3 linked regions of the Homo sapiens genome follow. The protein of the gene in region 3 interacts with the protein of the main gene of each other region in a pairwise test. Each region holds a gene or a part of one and is shown on either strand. Other genes may lie near its edges.

What was found. The genes of interacting proteins can lie anywhere in the genome.
Region 1: the proteins of PSMF1 (region 3) and BEND7 interact in a two-hybrid assay, tested with the Homo sapiens proteins (2 studies listed by BioGRID and IntAct).
Region 2: the proteins of PSMF1 (region 3) and PAK5 interact in binary tests that used the Homo sapiens proteins (3 or more experiments, as listed by UniProt).

What each region holds. Positions count from the first base shown.
Region 1 is NC_000010.11:13,497,999-13,505,026, forward strand, and holds part of BEND7 (BEN domain-containing protein 7), read right to left. Parts: intron 5,596-7,028; exon of another isoform or gene 4,863-5,595; intron 2,682-4,862; exon of another isoform or gene 2,512-2,681; intron 2,083-2,511; coding exon 1,780-2,082; coding exon of another isoform or gene 1,741-1,779; intron 1-1,740.
Region 2 is NC_000020.11:9,577,061-9,584,088, forward strand, and holds part of PAK5 (serine/threonine-protein kinase PAK 5), read right to left. Parts: intron 3,871-7,028; coding exon 3,085-3,870; intron 1-3,084.
Region 3 is NC_000020.11:1,156,597-1,163,624, forward strand, and holds part of PSMF1 (proteasome inhibitor PI31 subunit), read left to right. Parts: intron 1-6,533; coding exon 6,534-6,587; intron 6,588-7,028. UniProt on the Homo sapiens protein: Plays an important role in control of proteasome function. Inhibits the hydrolysis of protein and peptide substrates by the 20S proteasome. Also inhibits the activation of the proteasome by the proteasome regulatory proteins PA700 and PA28.

The DNA of each region.
Region 1 (7,028 bases), on a different chromosome or scaffold from region 3:
CAACTTTAAAATTATAAATAATCCCAATGAAATACCAAAGTAGTCACAGTTATATGTAATATATTTCTTTTTCTTTTTTTTTTTTTTTTTTTTTTGAGACAGGGTCTCGCTCTGCTGCACAGGCTGGAGTGCACTGGTATGATCTTGGTTCACTGCAACCCCTGCCTCCCAGGCTCAAGCGCTTCTCATGCCTCAGCCCCCCAAGTAGCTGGGACTACATGCATGCGCTACCACGCCCGGCTAATTTTTGTATTTTTTAGTAGTGATGGGGTTTCGCCATGTTGGCCAGGCTGGTCTCGAACTCCTGGCCTCAAGCAATCCACTCATCTCGGCCTCCCAAAGCGTTAGGACTACAGGCACGAGCCACCACGCCTAGCCATATTTCTATTGAAAACATAAAATATCTATTTTCAAACTGATATGGGGGAATTTATGTTTGTAACTTTTACTAACTTCATACTTTTCAAAGTAAATCCACTGTCCCTACTGTATACTGGGAAACAGAACACTGTTCACCCAAAACTTACTGATGTGGGGTTTATTAACTTCATACATACCTAAGGGTATTTTATTTCTCTTATTGTCTCTTCCATGGTAGTAGAGTTAGAAAGGTCTTAAAGAATATTTCTAGTCACTATTCTAAGTACCATCTTTTATCATTTTTAGAAGACAAAACCAACCCTTTTCAGCTTGTTATAAATCATTTTCTAATTTTAAAGAGAACTGACTTTTTATTTTTATGGAGGAGTCTTTAAAGAGCTGTGTCCCTCTAACCTGGAGGCATGCCAGCATTGGAACTTTGATACTGGCTTATGTACTACTGAGAGGCAGAGAAGACACCCATACATTTCTGGGGTCCTTCGCTGTCTCATCAATGTCTCAGGATGGCTTTTCATGCCTCTGAACCACAAATTGTGTTTTTAAAAAAAGTCAAAACAGTTCTCTTTTTCTTGAAGGATATTGTGAAATGAAAATGAATGGAAAAAAATCCTTAACTTCTTAAGGAAACTGAAAATGCTTTCTTACCTTTTTCTTGTTCTCTTTGTGAAAACTATAGATCTGCACATCTCTACAGAGTTTATAGAACAAATATTATAGCATCCAGTGTGGCCGGATAGAAAACTAATATGACCACAAAAAGCATCAGGTTTTTCTCCTTAAGCTTTGAAAAAAAATTGTCATTTGATTCTTTTCTTAACAATTAGGAAACTTAAATTAAGAAAATTTTACTTTAAAGGAATACTTTCCATTGCTAATGAAGCATGTTACAAAATATGGATCACTGGGTTCAGTACTGACGTGGGATGCTGGGTTATCGGCCCCCCACCCCTGTCCGCCCCCGCCTTTATCTGGGACTCTTCTGATAATGAGTAAGGTGAAGGAGTAACCAAGAGGATATGTTAGTAACACACCATAGGACCAGGAAGCTTCTTTTAAAGACAGTGGGGAGCTCTTTCTGCCCTAATGTTCAGGTTTTTTTTGTGACAATAATATCCATACATGGGCACAAAATGATCGCTTTAACCTCTTAAAGGGCTAAAATCTCTACCAGGAAATCTTCACTTATAACATAGAACCCCCTGTCTTTCCTAATTCTCAATTCTGTTTTTTAATAGTCTTCAACTCTTTCCTTTGTGTCTCCCTGTCTTTTAAAGTAACTCAGCAAAGGCAGGTAATTATGGGAGGGTTTAATAAATTGAACTCAACACACTGAATATTTAGAAATAGAACAGTACAAACCCCCATGAGAGCCTTCTGAATGTTTGTTGACAACCATACCATTGGAGCTCGTGGTAGGGTGGGGCTGGCTTTGGAAGGTTCTAGAACGGGTGCCATACTGCCCTGAGAACTGTCCACTCTGGGGCGGTAGCTCATTCCACACACCACGTGAAGACGGGTGGAGGCTTTGCGGGGCCTCAGCAGAGGAGTTCAAACGTGGAGGCCAGACTAAATCCAGGTCCTGGGGCTCTTCTTTTAGTTTCTCTCCTTCTTTGCCAACTCGCTGATAGATCCGCCCAGTGCTGTCGTTCAGCAATCTTCTCATCCCTGTAATTTGCTTTTTTATTTCCATGCTTTCATCTCCTAATGGAAACAGGGCCAAAGTTAGCACTCTAAATTAGTGAAAGAGAAAACAGTTCACTAACCAAAAAGAAGAGAAAGAAAAACAACCCTTCTTTGGAAATGGGAAAGATGACTGACTCTATGAACTTAATCTGTAAAACGCAAAGGCAGGAAAACTGACTACGGTCTGAAAAAACCCATCCTATTCCTGGTGCCTCTCATTTTAATCTCTTTCTGCAAGTCGCTTATGATGAAAGAGGTTTCTTGAGAGTGTGTCATCAGGAACAAACATGACATTCCCTCTTTGGAAGCATTTTCTGAATGAGTAGGTGATGAGGAAACAGGCTGAGACAGAAGGTCAAGGATAGAACTGGACCGCGGAACCCCTCTGCTCTGATGGGCCACAGCCACCCGTGAGGAATGGGCAGGTCACTAAAGCGCTCTGCTCACTGTCTGTCAGCTTCACCAGGCGGGGCAAGGACAAGGAAGAAAGCCTGGACTGGCAGGGACGCAGGGCTTCACTACTGACACAATGTCCTTCAGGATGACTGGCAGGGATGCAGGGCTTCACTGCTGACACAATGTCCTCCAGGATGACACGCTGCCGCTGGAGACATCACCTTCAGAGAGGACGGCCGAGGAGACAGAGAGGCGCCGAGTGTGGCAGCATGGCAAGCGAGGGGGTTTTGTCTTTCTGGCACTCTGACTCCCATCACATCAGCCTGGTGATGACCGAGGGGTCCCTGCCACTCGAGGTCACTGGCGGTACCAGCACTGGAAGGGCGGAAGTGCAACCTCCCCACCGTGCCCTCCTCCCATGCCAAACGCACTGCCACCTCCCCTGCAGCGTAACTGTGTGCGAAAGGTCACAGGCCACTTTGAAATCCCACTTCACCTACACTGACTTCTTTTTTTAAGATTTTTCTCCCGTCTCAGGACATTTTTTTAAAATGAAAGAACTTCTATACTGCACTGGGAGTACTTAATAAATATTAAAGATGTCTGTAATATTGCACAGATAGAAAATCTTTTTGGCCGGGCACAGTGGCTCACGCCTGTAATCCCAGCACTTTGGGAGGCCGAGGCGGGTAGATCACCTGAGGTCGGGAGTTCGAGACCAGCCTGACCAACATGGAGAAACCCTGTCTCTACTGAAAATACAAAATTAGCCAGGCGTGGTGGCACATGCCTGTAATCCCAGCTACTCACAAGGCTGAGCCAGGAGAACCCGGCTCACCCAGGAGGTAGAAGTTGTGGTGAGCCAAGATGGCACCATTGCATTCCAGCCTAGGCAACAAGAGTGAAACTCCATCTCAAAAAAAAAAAAAAAAAAAAAGAAAAAGAAAATATTTTCTATCAATAATAATATCAGAGGATGCTGATATCTGTTAGGAGCTATTTCAAACACACTATCTTCTTAAACTGTGCATCAGCCAGTATCTTCATAAAGATGAAGAGAAATGAATTTTTTTTTCTCAAACCCAAAAGATAAAATCTTAGGCCACTGTTGGGCATGGTGGCTCACACGTGTAATCCCAGCCCTTCGGGAGGCTGAGATGGGAGGGTCATTTGAGCTCAGGAGTTTGCGACCAGCCTGGGCAATATGGAGAAACCCCGTCTCTACAAAAAGTACAAAAGTTAGCCCAGCATGGTGGTGTGTGCCTGTGGTCCCAGCTACTTGGAGGCTGAGGTGGAAGGACTGCTTGAGCCCCGGAGGCAGAGGTTGCAGCGAGCCGAGATTGTGCCACTGCACTTCAGCCTGGGTGATAGTGGCAGACCCTGTCTCAAAAAAAAAAAAAATCTTAGGCCAGGGTATGTGTGTGTAAACATTCATGCAGTTACTCTAATAAATGCTTGAAATTTAAACTGTAAGATAAAGAAAAGGCTAACAGACAGCATCTGTTAAGAAAAATACAGCTCCTACAAATACACACAGCACATTCAATATAATGATTGCACTTAGGATCAATTATAATGATCAATATATGTATATATAAGGATATGTATATATATATATGGATCAACATAATGATTGCACTTAGGATAAGCCAGGTTTCTCTGTAGAACTGGTAACTGCACAATAACCTAGCCGTTTTGTGCTTTCCAGTTAGATATTTAGCTTATTAATATATGTGTTATGTTACTAAATAAGGAAGTTTATTTTGAATTTACTGTTCACTATTTTGAAGTAAATATCTTTAGTTTTTAAAAATGATACTAAAAACATTACAGAATATATTAATTCTGTCTAATTGAACATGAGTGAACACGGAAATAACACAGATTTCCAAATTTACAATATTGCTATGTGTTGTTGGCATATGCTTGAGAGGAGAAATATTCTAATTTGAGATAAAACTATTTCTACTTCAAACCCCTGTGAAAATTACAATATATAAACAATAAATCATATTCCAGATTTTATGAGAATGAACGACCAAGCGAGATTTCAATAACGCAGAGTCAGCAAAATTTACTACTTTCTCGAGAGGCTACGGAACAGGGTGTGTCTGGAAGAGGTCCCAAAGGAATCCTGAAAGATAAGCCCACAGGCAAATGCGGTATTAATTTCAGCAACCAGACACATACGTTCCCGGCTAGTTAACACCACAATTCAAGCAAGAGGAGGCATCTTTTCTGTGTGGTTTCCACCCACAGCCCTCCCCATCAGGCCGGGTATGCCTGCACTGAAGTCCATGCAGAGACTAGCCTTCTCTGGCACAGGTTGGTGGCCGCCACCCCTGACCCCAGGCTCCCTGAACAGAGCAGCCATAGCCAGGCCACATGGGGCAGATACCCACCCCGGCTCTCAAGTCCATGCCAGCTTGCTTCTCTACACTAACTGACACATCACAGGAGAAGGGATGTGTCTCCTGCCAAAGGTCCTGCCTCTGCTCTGTAGATATAATGCTAGGATAGATACAGTGCTACCATTAGCAACAGGAAGGCGTCACAAGGATTCTGGAACCTTCTGAGGGCAAATCTGCTTTGTCATGACCTCAGTTTCAGAGTTCCAGAACTTATGCCTATGAAAAGTACATGGCTGAAAATACAACCTGAGTTTTGCATAACTTTGTATTTTCATTTTGACAACCAGCATCCTAAGCTGCAGGTGGCAATGAGGGAGGAAGGTGGCAGGTGTGAGGGGTTCTGGCGGTGGGCTGCGCCTGCCGTGTGCAGAAACATGTCTCCCAAAGGCAAAACAAAACGAAACAAATACACAAAAAATCAGGACGTCGGGGGACTGAGGAGGAAGAAACAGTGCTGAAAGGAAGAGGGCAGAAGGCCAGAAGCAGGTCCCTCCTCAGAGGAAGTAAGCTCACGGCCTAGCTCACTGTGGCATGTTTTAAAGGATGGAACACATCCTTTAAAGGATGGCACAGTGGCTCACACCTGTAATCCCAGCACTTTGGGAGGCTGACGTGGGTGGATCACCCGAGATCTGGAATTTGAGACCAGCCTGGCCAACATGGTGAAAGCCTGTCTCTACTAAAAACACAAAAGTTAGCTGGGCGTGGCAGCGCGCGCCTGTAGTTCCAGCTACTCGGAGGCTGAGGCAGGAGAATCACTTGAACCTGGGAGGCGGAGGTTGCAGTGAGCCAAGGTTGTGCCACTGCACTCCAGCCTGGGCAACAGGGTGAGACTCCATCTCAAAACAAACAAACAAACAAACAAACAACAACTAAAAGGATGGAACACAGAAAACTGCAGTAACTGCAGAAGTCTGTGCTGAGAGGAGAGCTGAGAGGTGAGCTGAGAGTCGGCAGGGAAGGTTGAAGAAGGGCAGAGTGTGGAAAGTTTCTTAGGGGAGATGACGGGACGTTCAGGAATGGTCTCTGGGGTTTACTGAGTCACACTCTCTTCACCCAAAGCAGCAGAAGCAGCTGAGCAGGTCACCCCTGCAGCTGCTGCCTAGGAGGAGGGAGTCCTGGGGCTCTACTCCACAGCAGGGAATGATGAGTGACAGGCTTTGGCAGACAGGAAGAAAGAGGTTTCCTTGCACATTTGGGGCAGGTGGGGCAGAGGATCAGAAACGAGGCCTGAAGACTCCAAGTGACAATGACAAAGAAGCTGAGTCAACCTAAATAATCTGGGGACAGTGGGTGCTGGGAGCAGATGAGCAGGCCGAGCCGTAGAAGCTCGTTGAGTGTGGTGCAGTGTTAGTGTGGGACAGGACAGGCTGGGCTATTACACCCACACCTGGTCTCGCCTCCTAACTACGCCCACCTGCTACTGGATACTAGCCAAGCCACTGAATATTCTCTGGTTTCCTAAATCCTAAAGCAAGAGTCTGAACCCTAACCCGGGGAGGGGCACATGGTAGTCCAGGAGGGGCACAGGATTTTCACCATCACCAAGGTGTTAACCAAGCACTTTGTGGCTCTAGAAGTCCTTTTCGGAAGACAGGCTTCTTCTATCATAGTGGAATCCAAGTTCTTTGATAAAAAAAAAAATTGGTGAAAAGTATACAGGAGATTGAGATTGGAAGCATTCACTGACTTCTACTGGTATTTCCAGTTATCATTAGTCAATGACTTCTCCAGGTATAGATACCAGGAAAAGGAAGCTCTTTGGAGCAACGAGCTCTCTAGCGAGACAGGATGCTATAAGGAAACCTGTGCATTTTTCCTGATCTCTTTCCAAGACGCTGAATCCTTTTCAGAAAAACAAACACAAAGGAATCTTACTAAAATGGATCCATGCCACGTGACTACCTTATTGGCAGCCTGAAATCCTTTGGAGTTTAGTAACTATACTCCTTGGACAAGATCTAAAAAGATTGTATGCTGGATTCTCCCCCTCACTAAATTTCAAGACTCTACTAGATCACGTTCCTTTACGCAAAGAATTTATGACACATAGTCTTGCAGGATCTGATACATGTGAGGGCAACACAGAAGTCAACACACAAGGTTGCCCTTAACTTGGCTAGGAGGGAAGGATCCACTACGTGGAACACGATTATT
Region 2 (7,028 bases), 8.4 Mb from region 3:
GATTTGTCTGCAGGCGAGGGTGGAAAGCATTCTCTCTCCACATCTGGCAGTTTTCATAATTTTGTGGTGGGTATGGTGCTATATGGTTTTTGTTTGGCTTTGCTTCCCACCCTCCCAACCCCAGGGTTTCATCTGCTTAGTTCCAGCAAAATACACTTAAATGTAGGGAGAGGAGGCCAACATCAACAAACTCATAACATTCTTGATTCCTGTCCTGCTAGCAGGGAAATTAAGTAGGTAGATAACATTGAAGGATTTTTTTTTTCTGTGGGTTAACATTAATCTTTTTTTTTCTTTAGGACAAAATGTAAAACTGTGTCAAACACACACACGTGTGTACACACACACATGTGTACACACACATGACCCTCCTCATTTCTGCTTCATCTGGAGACCTACACAAGTTTTGTGCTTCCTTTTATTACTGGAGATGAAAACATGACCCAGCCTCCTTTAGGAGTCTCTGCAAGCAAGGCCGACTCATCTGAGTCGTGACCGCTATTTCTTCCCTCAGCTGGAAATCCAAATGTGATTGGTACACTCTAAGAGTACCGTTCTAAAGACACAGGCACCTCCGTCTTTTCAGAGAAATGTTGTATTTTTAATCAAGTGAACGTTTTAATTACTAACCTGCCTCCCACCTCTTATCCTCCCACAAAACAAAAACCTGCTCATGAATCTCTCACGAGTTTCCTGTGAAACATGGAGCAGCAGCTTGCTTCTTTGTATTTCTGATCGTAAGGGCTGAACACCCTTGGTAGAAGTTCCCATGAGTGATTATGCTGTTTTTGTTGTTGTTGTTGGTGGTGGTGAGCCACAATAGTTTGTGCATTGTTTCTGGGCTGGCAGAGCCAGATTTCAGGGCAGGTCTGCTTTGTCTTATATTTGGAAGTCTGCAGAATAGAGGGAGCCTGTAGGGAATTAAAGTGAATCACCCCTCCCACCCTCGTTCTTCTGTCACTTAGACGAAAGTTCTGGTGGCCACTGGGACTTCTCATGGATTTTCTTGGCAAATGCAGTTGAGTCCCCGAGATAACATACGCCCAAATAATAGGAAAATATTGAGCAGGGAGAAACACCAGACTTGAGTTCTTGTCCTTGTTTTGCAACCAACTAATTATGAAACTGTAAGTGTGTCATGTGGCTCTCTGGGCCTCAGTTTCCCCTTCTAGGAAATGAGTGTGCAGGGATTGCTGGTGGTGACATTAAATCCCAAAAGCCCATGCTATGTGAAAATGTGGACTCAGGGATACCAGTTCATCCTTTTTAAAAAAATAAAAATAAAAAAGAGAGAAGACTGAAACTCCAGAATTAAGAGTTCTAAAACTCTTGACCTCTAAAACTATTTGGACTATAGACATGTGTAGCCCACCCAATATTCATTTCCAACATCCAGGAAGAGCCAAATAAGGCTCCAGGACCAAAATGCAGCATCATCTGGGCAATGTTTTCTCTGTAACTATGACCCCAAACAACTCCCTAACACAAATATGCAAATAAGCCACACGCACACAAAATCTTAGATAAAAAAATAACCACTGATATTCAAAGCCTCAGGATGTAACTCAATTCAGCTATAGAACATGTTAACTTATTTATTTCATATCACTCACAGAAATGCACAAGTGATATGCACAAGAAATGGAATAAACTATCTCATGTATCATGAGACATGCGTATGAGTTCAAGTAGATTTTGCTTGTGGTTAATTAGACCTCTTTCCAACAGTCACCCTGGCAAGCACACAGGAAGAGAAAGCAGTCATGATATCCTGAGTGTGGGTGTTCAAGTACATTAATACCACGAGATAAAAAAAAAACACTGTCACTATGTGAATTTTAACTGGAGGAACATATCTCAGGCCTCTATTTATCAAGATTTGTTTTTAATTTTATATCCTGGGAACTAAGGTGACAGCTTTTTTGTTTCTTCTAAAGAATGGCTGAAGTAACTCCAACAATACACTTAAATGGCTTCTCTTCAACATCTTGGATGAGGTTAATGAGAAATAAGAAGCAAAGGAAAAATATCGACTATCTATAATCAATAAATCAGGTGAATGCAGGCAGGCTTGGGTTCCAGAGTTTTCTGTGCTGCTCACCAAACTGTCAAGAGTTTGGTATAAATAAAGTACATGACTGCCCTGTGAGAAGTCATGTCCCTCTCACCTGCTTCAAGACCTCTATGTAATCCACATTCCACACCCTACGGTCCATGTTCTTTTGCTGGACAGGTAAGGTAGCAAAAACATTTCTAAATGACAGGGAAAAATAAATCACTTGCACATTCTCAAAGGTATTTTCCAAGACTTTAGACCTTCGGACCCATAGACCTTTGCCTGTGCTTTTAGTTTCAGTAACTTCTCCGGCAGTGATTCCCAAACTTTAGGATATCATAGACCAGTCAAATTTCAAAGCAAACTTGGAGCTGCTAACATTTAAACAAAATTTAAAAGAGGAATTACTACAAAACAAAGTGAAAAGGGGACAAAAATGGTCCAGCGGTCCAGCAACCATCTGTCACCCCCAAATTTCATATAAAAACCAATATTTCAAATCAAATATAGTAGAAAGTACATACTCTTAATATGAAGGGCCATCCCCTGAGTTGAACAAAATTGGCTTTATTTAAAAATTACCATGTTATACTGAGTTTCTTTCCTTTTTAGCAGGTCTATGCAAACTTTGCCAGGATGTAGGAACCACTGGATGGCTCGATCTAATGCTCTATGATTGTATATGACTGATCCACTCCTTAACAGGGAACTTAGTCAAATACAGTCACATCATATTTATCACTCATATATCAGAATTCTATCTTTCAAATCAATAAGTTTATTCGCCTTTTAATGAGAAACCACGTAGGAGGGCCCAAAAGATAGATTTTTATTTTAATGAATATATATGCCTTATCCTAAACCTCTGCCCTGGGGCCTCACAAGTGGAGATAGGGTGGGTTTTGATATTGATTTTCCCTTAAAAGGCAAACAAGTACTTTACAATCCAATCGTATAAAAAGGTCGTGCCAGCACCACCCCTGTGGAGGTTTTTGCACACGTGAGGGAAAGGAGGTAGCAAACGTTACCTTTGGAATGCACATTGTGGGCTCGGACAAGCGAGGGTAGGTGTAGGAGTTGTAGGAGTGTCCTTGGGGATGGGTTTTAAATGCACTTGCTCCAAATGGCATCATCGGTTCCTGGAGTCCCGAGCCTGACCTGGACCTCTGCCGCATGGTGGGCTGAGGGCTTGTCTGATTCAGGTACGAAGACTTTGGCCTCCTGTCATAGTCATCCAGGCTGGGTCCCCATTCACTTTCACTGTACGCCAGGCTCTCCTTGGAGCACCCGCTGGTCCCTGCAGTTCTAGAAGGTGTGAATTGGAATGAATAATCCAGAGGGGAGCTACTCGAGGCTCTCTGATACTCCCACTTGAGGTCACTGTATTCACTTGGTTTGCTCAGTGAGTCCAAATGTGAGTGATAATCGGCAGAAAATCTGGCAAAATCGGATTTCAAAGGCTTCACCTCAGAATAGTAGGCCTCCCCGTGCTTCATTTTCATTACGTGCCCATTTTGCTTGGCTGCGTGGCTGCCTCTATAATACGGATCCAGATCATCTCCATAGAGACTCTTCTCCCTGTACTTTTCGGTCGTGTAGTCAGCAGTAGTATCGGATTCGCTGGAATACTGGGAGAAGGTGATGAAGCCATTTTCTTCCGCGTGGCCTGGACCGTGGCTGGAGGCTCCCTGATCTGGGGTGGGTGGGCTTTCTTTCCTTAGGGAGTTGGAGCGAGTCACCGAGATGTTGTCAAAATCCTCTAGCAGGCCGTTGATGGAGGTTTCCTTGCAGGGTTTGTTTCCTCTAACGATTGTCTGGGAATAATAGAGGGAATATTGTTTAAAGAAAATATTTCATGGATTTAAATTGATGGTGGCATCCCACCCCCACTCCATCCAAATTAAACTACAGAAGAAAAAAGACCCCGGGAACACTTAACACAAAATGATAAAGAAAATGTGTTGATTGACTTCAGTGGTGAAATAAATCAAATAGTAAACAATCTCAAATTGCATTTTTCTTCTTACCTATCTCAACAGAGACATCAAATAACCATCAAAAAGCCATGTAGGAGACTACATAGAATATAACTGTTTTATTTACCAGTTTACAGGCAAATCCCTTCCCCCTACTTCTTCTACCTAAATAATAAGCCCTAACCACCTAATGATGAGCTGATAATTATAATTTAACACTCTATAACTGTTTGGTAATAAAAAATAATATTTATTACTGTTTTACATTCATTATTCAGATGATTTTCAAAACCAGAAGGCATTATCACCCAACTATTAACATAACTAGAAATGGGTGTACATTTTTTGCCCTTATATGGAAGACATAATAACTGAGGTTATGAAATTTTATGGATGAGGCAGGCACTTCCTGAAACTGTAATTAGGAAACAGACTGAAGATTATTTGTGTGATTTATGATCAAATGTGATATTCTTATTAAGTATATATACTTATACTATACTGCTTGTTTGTTATGGCCACACTTCTGTGTAACATCACCGCTGAATTTTGGATGGCTTAGTAATGATGGTTGCACCTGGATCTTAGTGACAAATTGTTCCCTTTAATGAACCTAAATAACACAAGAATACCAGGAACTGAAAGACATCGCAAACCACTTACAAAGCCCGTCAGCCGTGCCTTGACAATGACAGGATTTGCAGGCAAATATGATGGGGGTGGATAAAAGAACAAAGAACAAAGTGTTGTGACTTCAGACTTCCAGGATTTTAGGAGAAAAATACTTTTGAGCAAGTAGCAAGGAGTTCAAAACTATCTTGGATGGTACAATAGAAGATTTCAAACTGGAGGAAGAAGTCAAAGTTGTCCTGGAGCTGATGTTTTATAGATCTATCCATGGTGAAACAAAGGGTTTATTTTTTTTCTTTCCAAGAGTCCTGGACTAATAGTTTTGTACTATACCCTTTTCTTTCAAATAAAATTTTTATTCTAGAATAGTTTTAGATTAACAGAGAAGTTGCAAAGAGAATACAGAGTTCTCATAGACTTCTCATCCAGTTTCCCCTTGAGTTAATATCTTGCATTGCTATTAAGGAAACTCCATGTTCCTATAGATTTCATTAATTTTCTCCTAGGGTTCTAGAGTCCCATCCAGGATAGTTCATTACATTTATTTGTTATATCTTCCGAGTTTCCTCTGATCTGTGACAGTTTCTCAGATTTTCCTTATTTTTTGATGACCTTGACAGTTTTGAGGAGTACTGGTGAGGTATTTTGGAGAATGTTCCTCCATTGGGGTTTTCTGGTGTTTTTCCCATGTTTAAACAGAGGTTATTTGGTTTGAGGAGGAAGATCAGAGAGTCAAGTCACATTTCATCGCATAATGTTTAGGGTACATATCGTCGACACGACTTAGGAATGATGATGTTAGCCCTGACTACCTGGGTGAGGTCATATTTTCCAGGTTTCTTATACACACAGTCACACTCCCCTTCCCTAGCTTTCTGTATATTGTATTCTTTGGGAACAAGTCAGTAAGTGTAGCGTCTACTCAAGGGTCAGGGATTTAAGCTTTATCTTCTTGGGTGTGTGTGTGTGGTGGGGGTAGGGTATCTATATAAAGTAGTTGGAATTCTTCTGCACAGGAGACTTGCTTATTTGCTCCCATTTACCTACTCATTCAATCATTTATTTATATATAAGGATGGATGGACTTATGGTTATTTATTTTATACTTTGGGTTATAAGCCAACACTCTGTTATTTGCCTTGTTGCTCAAATGGTTCCAGCTTTTGTCACTGGGAGTTCTCTCAGGCTGGCTGCTGTGTCCCTTTGATGATCCCTCTTCCTTTTATTTTTTGAGCACTTCCTTACTTTCTGTCCCTACAAGAAGCTCCAGGTTTATCTTTTATTTTCCCTGCCCTTCCCCCCAAATCAGGCATTTCTCCAAGGAACGCTAATAGTATTAGAAATTAAGATTTGGTTCCAGGAATACTCATTGCTACTGGGTGTCATTGCCAGGCCTCAGCAAACAGAGCTCCGAAATAATATGTTTGTAGACTAACTCATGAACACACTCACACACCTATAATTATATCCATCCATCTGTATCTATATTAACCTAAACATAAATCCACATTAATGTCTCTGAATCTAATCAAGTACCACATAATTCATTCTTGCCATTTCCTTACCTGTAACTTCCTCTGCAACAGTAAAAAACATGGGCCCCACCATCTGCCAGTCATTTGCCTATTCAGTGCTAGTATAACTGTTCAGCAGTTTCAGATTAACTCACTCTACCATGAGAAACAACTTTGTCAACTCAAGTACCATGTTTAAGTCCAGTTCTTTAAAATTCCTTTACACTTATAGTTTGCATTCAAAGCACTGTTTCCAAAGTTCCTTAAGTTAGTGTCTTTTTTCCTGCACCCCCTTCAATGAGGTTATGTTATAAATGTATAGCTGTTGGATTCTTTGGTCACATTCTGCATTCTATCCCAGGATCCTCTGATCTTCTGGTTTATTTTTTGTTGTTTTTTGAAACTACGTACATTAATTAACTCTTTGTGCTGCAAAGCTCTATGGGTATTGACAAGTGCAAAGCATCATGTATTCACTGTTAGAGTGCCATACAAATTAGTGCCACCAGCTGCAAAAATATCTCCTGAGTTTCCTCTAGTCAAACATTACCCTCTCCCCAAACCCTTGATATCACTGATCTGTTTTCTGTCCTTATTGTTTTGTCTATTCCAGAATATCATATGGATGGAATCATACAGTCTGGAGCCTTTCAGCTTGACTTCTTTCACTGAGCATAATATAGTCAGTGTTCATAAACTAATATCCTAGTCTTTTTTTTGCCTATTCCTTTTTTATTCCATAGTGTGGAATTCATTATATGGAATGTAGTCATTGTTGAGGGTGGTGCATAAATTGATGGATTGATTGCCAAAGTAGGGGATGCTCTGTTGGAGCCTCCCTTAGAGAAAGAA
Region 3 (7,028 bases):
AACAGCATTCTTAAAGTATGGAGAGAAAAAGAATTGTCAACCCAGAATTCTATATCCAGTGAATATTTCACCTTCATTTCTAAAGGATATTAAGATATTATTAAGAATATCTTAACAAAGAAACTAAGAGAATTCATAGTCAATAGATCTTCTCAAAAGGAGTTTTAAAAGGAAGTTCCTCAGACAGAATGGAGATGATACCAGATGGAAACTTCAAACATCAGGTATAAAAGAAGAGTGGTAGAAATGGTAAATATGTGGGTAAATATAATGGACAGTTCTCTAAAATAGGTTTCATAGTTTTATTAGTGTTCTCTTAGAGGGACAGAACTAATAGGCTATATCTACATACATATGTATTGGGGAGTTTATTAAGTATTAACTTATACGATCACAAGGTCCCACAATAGGCTGTCGGCAAGCTAAGGAGCAAGGAGAGCCGGTCTGAGTCCCAAAACTGAAGAACTTGGAGTCCGATGTTCAAGGACAGGAAGCATGCAACACAGGAGAAAGATGTAGGCTGGGAAGCTAGGCCAGTCATGTCCTTTTCATGTTTTTCTGCCTGCTTTATATTCTCTGGCAGCTAATTAGATTGTGCCCACGAGATTAAGGGTGGATATGCCTTCTCCAGCCCACTGACTCAAATGTTCATCTCTTGGCAACACCCTCACAGACACACCCAGGATCAATATTTTGTATCCTTCAATCCAATCAAGTTGGCACTCAGTATTAACCATCACATGTCTACCCCTTGTCAACTTGAACTGATACACATCTCCTGAGATCATACATAATCTTCAAATAAAGCCAAAATAAGGTCATAATTACGCCTAACATAATACAACTATCCTTCGTACAACTAGAAACTCACCAATCCCCAACCCAAATACTATTACATAAAGTTAACAATACTTAAATGCTGATACAAAGTCAGTAAACCTTATGTCACATGATAAAGGAGAAAGGAAATAAAATGAAGATGCTTTCTTAATTAAGTGTATGCATGCACAAACATGTTTTTAACAAAAGGAGGAAATACTCATGACAATTACAGTCCTCGTTTCTGCAGCTGGTCACGTGGTCGTAGCTGGTATTGATGATTGCCTTCTACTACTACCCATTCTGTATTCCCTTTGCCTTCAGTAAGCACCTCAGCAGGTCGTTTTTTTTTTTTCCTGGTGGAGTGACCCAAAAAGGGTCACTTCATTCCTGAAGGGTCTGGATCATTTGTAGTCCTGCCTGGATTGGGCTGTTGTAGTTTCTCATTGATCTTAATCACAGGGCATGGTAATACTAAGAGATGCCTTAATGGATCTCCTGTATTCCATGCATACTCTTCCTTACCTCCGTTCTAGAGTAGTAGACTGATTTCATCTTGATAGTCTGGGTCAGTCACCCCAGCCAACATTGTAACTCCCTTCTCAGCCTGTTGACTTAAAGGTAGAGGAGCCCAAAGTATCAAGTGGCAATCTTAACTTCCAGTTTAATGGAATTATTGTGTCTCCTGGTGGCAGCGTTCCTCCCTCTGGAACTAAGACCTCTAGGCCAGCAGAACGCAATGTCATGGGAATAGGAAGCAAAAATTTTGCTAGTGGATGTCAATCTTTTAAAAACTAAATTAAAAAAAAACTAAACAAATTGTAGCACAGCATCTGACACAAAGCAAACTCTCAGTAAATCGCAGCAGCTGCTGTTATTACATTCTTCCAGGTCTTTCCTTTAACAAATCTGTTCACCTGCAATGCTACATTTTATCATTATGGCAGGCCCTGTGGGTGTTACTACTTAGATTTTACATCTTAAAGACTGAAGTGCAGAAGTTTCATGGCAGACCCCTGCCAACCAGCTGGAAAATTCCCAACCCAATGTCCAGAGCGCATCTCTGACTCCCAGTCCTGAGGCCTTTCCAGTTCACCAGACCACCTCAGCCATTAGAAGGGTGTCAGCTGGATTTGTGTGCCCAACGAGGTGTGTTGCTTTTATGTAAAAGAGAAGCACATAAGGAAGAAATCATGAGTGTTCAGGATCCCTTTCCAGTCCCTTAAAGAGGCTGCTTTTGCAGTAGCGACATACTACCCAGTGAGCTCAGCCATGCAGTTTTTCCTGCAGGGTTAGAGTGGATCACTTCCTTCAGTTGATCACCATTTGAAGTAGCAGGGGTTTGAGTTCAGAGGCCATGTACGAAAATGATTTTAAAAATACCTGGAGCCTCATTTAGCACATGCAAGACTGAGACTCAGCCAAGGGGGCTATCTAGAGAAGGACGGAACCCCCTCCCTCTGTACTATTTACTCTGAGTTCATAAAAAAATTAGCCAGGCGTGGTGGCGCATGCCTGTAATCCTAGCTACTTAGGAGGCTGAGGCAGGAGAATTGCTTGAACCTGGGAGGCAGAGGTTGCAGTGAGCTGAGATTGTGCCACTGTACTCCAGCCTGGGCAACAGAGTGAGACTCCGTCTCACAAAAAAAAAAAAAAGAAGAAGTAAATGGGTTCTAAGTGTGTAAATAATGAGGTCACAGAAGTCTTCATGTGTTGCAGTGAGTCTTTGTTGAATATGAGCCAACTGAATATGTTGTTACAGTTTCTAGTACCTTTTTAAAAATTTTTTATATTTTTCCTTAATAATAGAGATGGGGGTCTCATTATGTTGCCCAGGGTAGTCTCGAACTCCTGGACTCAAGCAATCCTCCCACCTCGACCTCCCAAAGTGCTTGGATTACAGGCATGAACTACTGCACTTGGCCTTTAGAGACATGGTTTTGCTATGCTGGCCAGGCTGGTCTCGAACTCCTGGCCTCAAGTGATTTGCCCACCTCAGGCCTCCCAAAGTGCTGCGATTACAGGCATGAGCCACCGTGCCTGGCCTGCAACTGCCTTTCTAGCCTTTCTTGTTCTCTTGTTTCTTCTCTCTTCCCCACATTTCGTGGGCCAGAGAGAAAAATAGAGATGGTTGCATATTTCAGAGCAATCTTTATTCCCAAGCATTTTATCAGCCACTAGAAGCCCCCTATGTTTGCCACTCTGGGCGGGGGGGCACTTCATGGAGTCAGGTAAGATGCTTACTGCCCTCTGGCACCACCTGGTCTGCCTCTAGTTAGGCAGGATGTTGGAGGCTGCTAGAAACTTTGACTGCTAGCTCCATGAACTGTGGCTTGGGAGCAGTAACCTAGGTCAGGAAAAATTCCTTCCCTAGGAAACCTGGCCTTGTCCATTTAAATCACAGTATCCTGCGATTCCAGCCCATCAGGTGGAACTGACTGGAGGAGCACCTACTTTTGGATTTTTTCCCGGTTCTCTAATTAATGGCTTCTTACCTGTAAGCTTAGATTAGCTGCTGTTTATAAGGCTTTCCCAAGGTCTGGCAGGAACGTGCCAGTGCCCCAGAACTATCAGGTTTGTATTGCTTGCCAGGGCTCTGCGAAGATTCCAAAGCACATCTTTCAAAATACTAAATATTTGTGTTGTATTATATCCATATCCCTATGCATTACGGAAAAAACAGGAAAGTATAAAGAAAGCCCTCACCACCCAGGAGTGACTGTCACTGTTTACGCTCTCGGTACGCTTCTTTCTGGTTGTAATTATACATACCACCACCACTACCCTGCATACACACGTTTTTCACCGTTGATTTCCCTAGGCTATTGATGACCCCCTTTCCCCTCAGTACTTAACACTAGAGCATGAGCATTTCTCCACATCATTTTTAAAACATTCCCAGAACATGGTTTTTATTGCTTCCATGGCTGCACTTGGGGACCTGCCATGATGTTCCTAACTGGTCTTCATTCAGGCTGACTGCAGTTTCCTTGATTAATGTCTTTGTGAGTATATTTTAATTTAAATTCTTTATTTAAAATGAATACCTAGACATAAAATTATCAGATCAAAGAATAGAGAGATATATAAGAGGGTCTCACTCACTACTGCTGGCCTGTGCTCCATGTCTTCCCACCGCTCTGCCGCCCAGCTCCTCCACCGATCACAATGGAAGAAGAGATCACCATACTCGTCATTGACAATGGCTCCAGCATGTGCAAAGCTGGTTTTGCTGGGGACGACGCCCCTGGAACCATGTTTCCCTCCACTGTCAGGTGCCCCCAACACCAGGGCATGATGGTGGGGATGGGCCAGAAGGTCTTCTACCTGGGCGACAAGGCCCAGAGCAAGCACGGCATCCTGACGATGAAGTACCCCATCGAGCACAGGATTTTCACCAGCTGGGAAGGCATGGAGAAGATCTGGCACCACACCCTACAACAAGCTGCATGTGTTCCTGGAGGAGCACCTGGTGCTGCTGACTGAGGGCCCCCTGAACCCCAAGGCCAACAGAAAGAAGATGGCTCAGATCATGTTTGAGACCTTCAATACCCTGGACATGTACGTGGCAGTCCAGGCCATACTTCTATGCCTCTGGGCGCACCACTGGCATTGTCATGGATTCTGGAGACGGAGTCACACACACGGTGCCCATCTACAAGGGCTATGCCCTCCCCACGCCATCCTGCGTCTGGACCTGGCTGGCCAGGACCTGACCACCTCATGAAGATTCTCACAGAGTACGACTACAGCTTCCCTACCACAGCCAAGCGGGAGATCATGCGTGACATCAAGGAGAAGCAGTGCTGCGTCGCCCCGGACTTTGAGCAGGAGATGGCCACCGCTATGTCATCCTTCTCCCTGGAGAAAAGCTACAAACTGCCTGACAGCCAGGTGATCACCATTGGCAACATGCAGTTCCAGTGTTTGGAGGTGTTGTTCCAGCCCTTCTTTCTGGGTGTGGAATTTTGCAGCATCCATGAGACCACCTTCAGCTCTATCATAAGGTGTGATGTGGGCATCCACAAGGACCTGTATGCCAACACGGTGCTGGCCAGTGGCACCACCATGTACCCAAGCATCTCCAACAGGATGCAGAAAGAGATCACTGCCCTGGTGCCAGCACAAGGAAGATCAAGATCATCGTGCTCCCAGAGCGCAAGTACTCCGTGTGGATCAGCAGCTCCATCCTGGCCTCATTGTCCACCTTCCAGCAGATGTGGATTAGCAAGCAGGAGTATGACAAGTCGGGCCCCTCCATGTCCACCACAAATGCTTCTAAATGGACTACAAGCAGATGTGTAGCATTTGCTGCATAGGATAATTCACACGTATAAATTTGCCCCTGACAAATGTATACACCTCATGCCAGCCTCACAAAACTGGAATAAGCTTTTGGAAAGAAATTTGTCCTTGAAGCTTGTGTCTGATATCAGCAGTGGATTGTAGAACTTGTTGCTGATTTTGACCTTGTATTCAAGTTAACTGTTCTCTTGGTATTTGTTTAATACTCTACATATCTTTGATTTCAGCCCTTAAGTGCATGTGGTTTGGTCACTTCATGGCTGAGGTGAAGAACATGCTTGTGGAAGACAAGTCTATGGCTTGGGGGGTCTGTGTGGCTGGCAGTCTCCCACTGGTGCAGGGTATTCATGTGTCAGGGCTGAGTATTCTGGGATTTCTCTAGAGGCTGGCAAGGGCTCCTGAACCAGTTGTCATTTCTGTCTTGCCTGTAGGACCCAGTTTCCTTTCTTAGCTGATGTTTTCCTGCCAGAACACCATGGGCTGTTACTTGTCTTGAGTTGGAAGCGGTTTGCATTTACACCTGTAAATTTATTCATCCTTTTCATTTATGTAAGGTTTTTTTGGTATGCAATTCTTGAGTCTTTAAGAGATGACAACAAATTTTGTTTTTTTTCACTGTTATGTGAGAGCATTAGGCCTAGCAGCACATCATTGTGTAAGAAAAAATAAAAGTGCTGCCATTTAAAAAAAAGACATATAAGACTTTTGAAGGACTGTGTATTTTTGTGTCTGTCTATATCTATATATATTACAGAGATAATATAGAATTACTCTCCAGAAAGCATGCAGTCATTTATGTGCCTTCTAGCTCATGCATTCTCCATGAAGGCAGAAATCGGCTATTAGGGTTGGGGGCAGTCCTAGAGATTACAGTGGTTTGTGGCCCTCCTGCAGGTACAGTGCATAAACAGATACACAGTACATCTGTAGTACTAAAATTTTATACAGGGGCTATATTGACAAAAAGGTTGAGAAGTACTGTTCTAGCTGTATGTGACTCCATACATCTGTCTCCACCTTGGAAGCTTTCAAATCTTAGCTTTGGGATTTTGGTTTTGGGTTTAAGAATAATATTTTTCTGACGTAAAACTTCTTGGTTCATTATACAAAGTTGAAGAAACTGAGAAAGTTGTGAATAAAATTTATCTGGAGGTTACCAATATTAATATTTTAAAATATTAATACTTAATATTTTAATCTATGTTTTTAGGTTTGTGTTCCGCCCTTCTTACATAATTGTCATTGTAGGATTATCATTGTTCATCTGAGCCAAGGACCACCCTGAAATATCCCTTGTGCTATGGTCTCATGCAAGGGTTTCCCATGCCTGTGAGTGTGTTTGTGATCCCACATGTATCAGGTGCCTGGCTGCTCTGGGACTTGCAGTAATTGTCTCTTGTTTGTTTCAGGTGTGATCCCCTGGGCCCGTTTGTTGTCGGGGGAGAAGACTTAGACCCTTTTGGGTGAGTACTGCTGGGGAGGTGGCAGCAACACAACTTGCTTTTGTGGCTTTTCAGCCCCAGCTCATCTTCTAATTTTAGAGTTTTCGGTCAGTCTCTTCCTTTGGGGTGGAGGAGGCAGTTGTTGCTGAGCAGCTGAGAAAGCACTGCCACATACGCTGCCCCTCCACACCTAGAGCGGTGCAGGAGAGCACTGAGTGTTGGCAGGGAGGTGAACAAGCCTAGCAGGCAGCTCTTCTGCCATTTCCCGGTCCCCCTGCCCACCCTAGTTTATCAGATGTATAGTGAGGAGCACATGGTGGGCCTTAGGGCAGCTCAGGGCTATTCAGAGGTTGCCCCACTTAATAAAGGGAGTCTCTGAGCCCCATTAGACTCTGGATGGTTCTTATGCATCCAACAAAGTTACTACAGCCTCTGCTATCCACTGTCTTCCCTGAATGATTC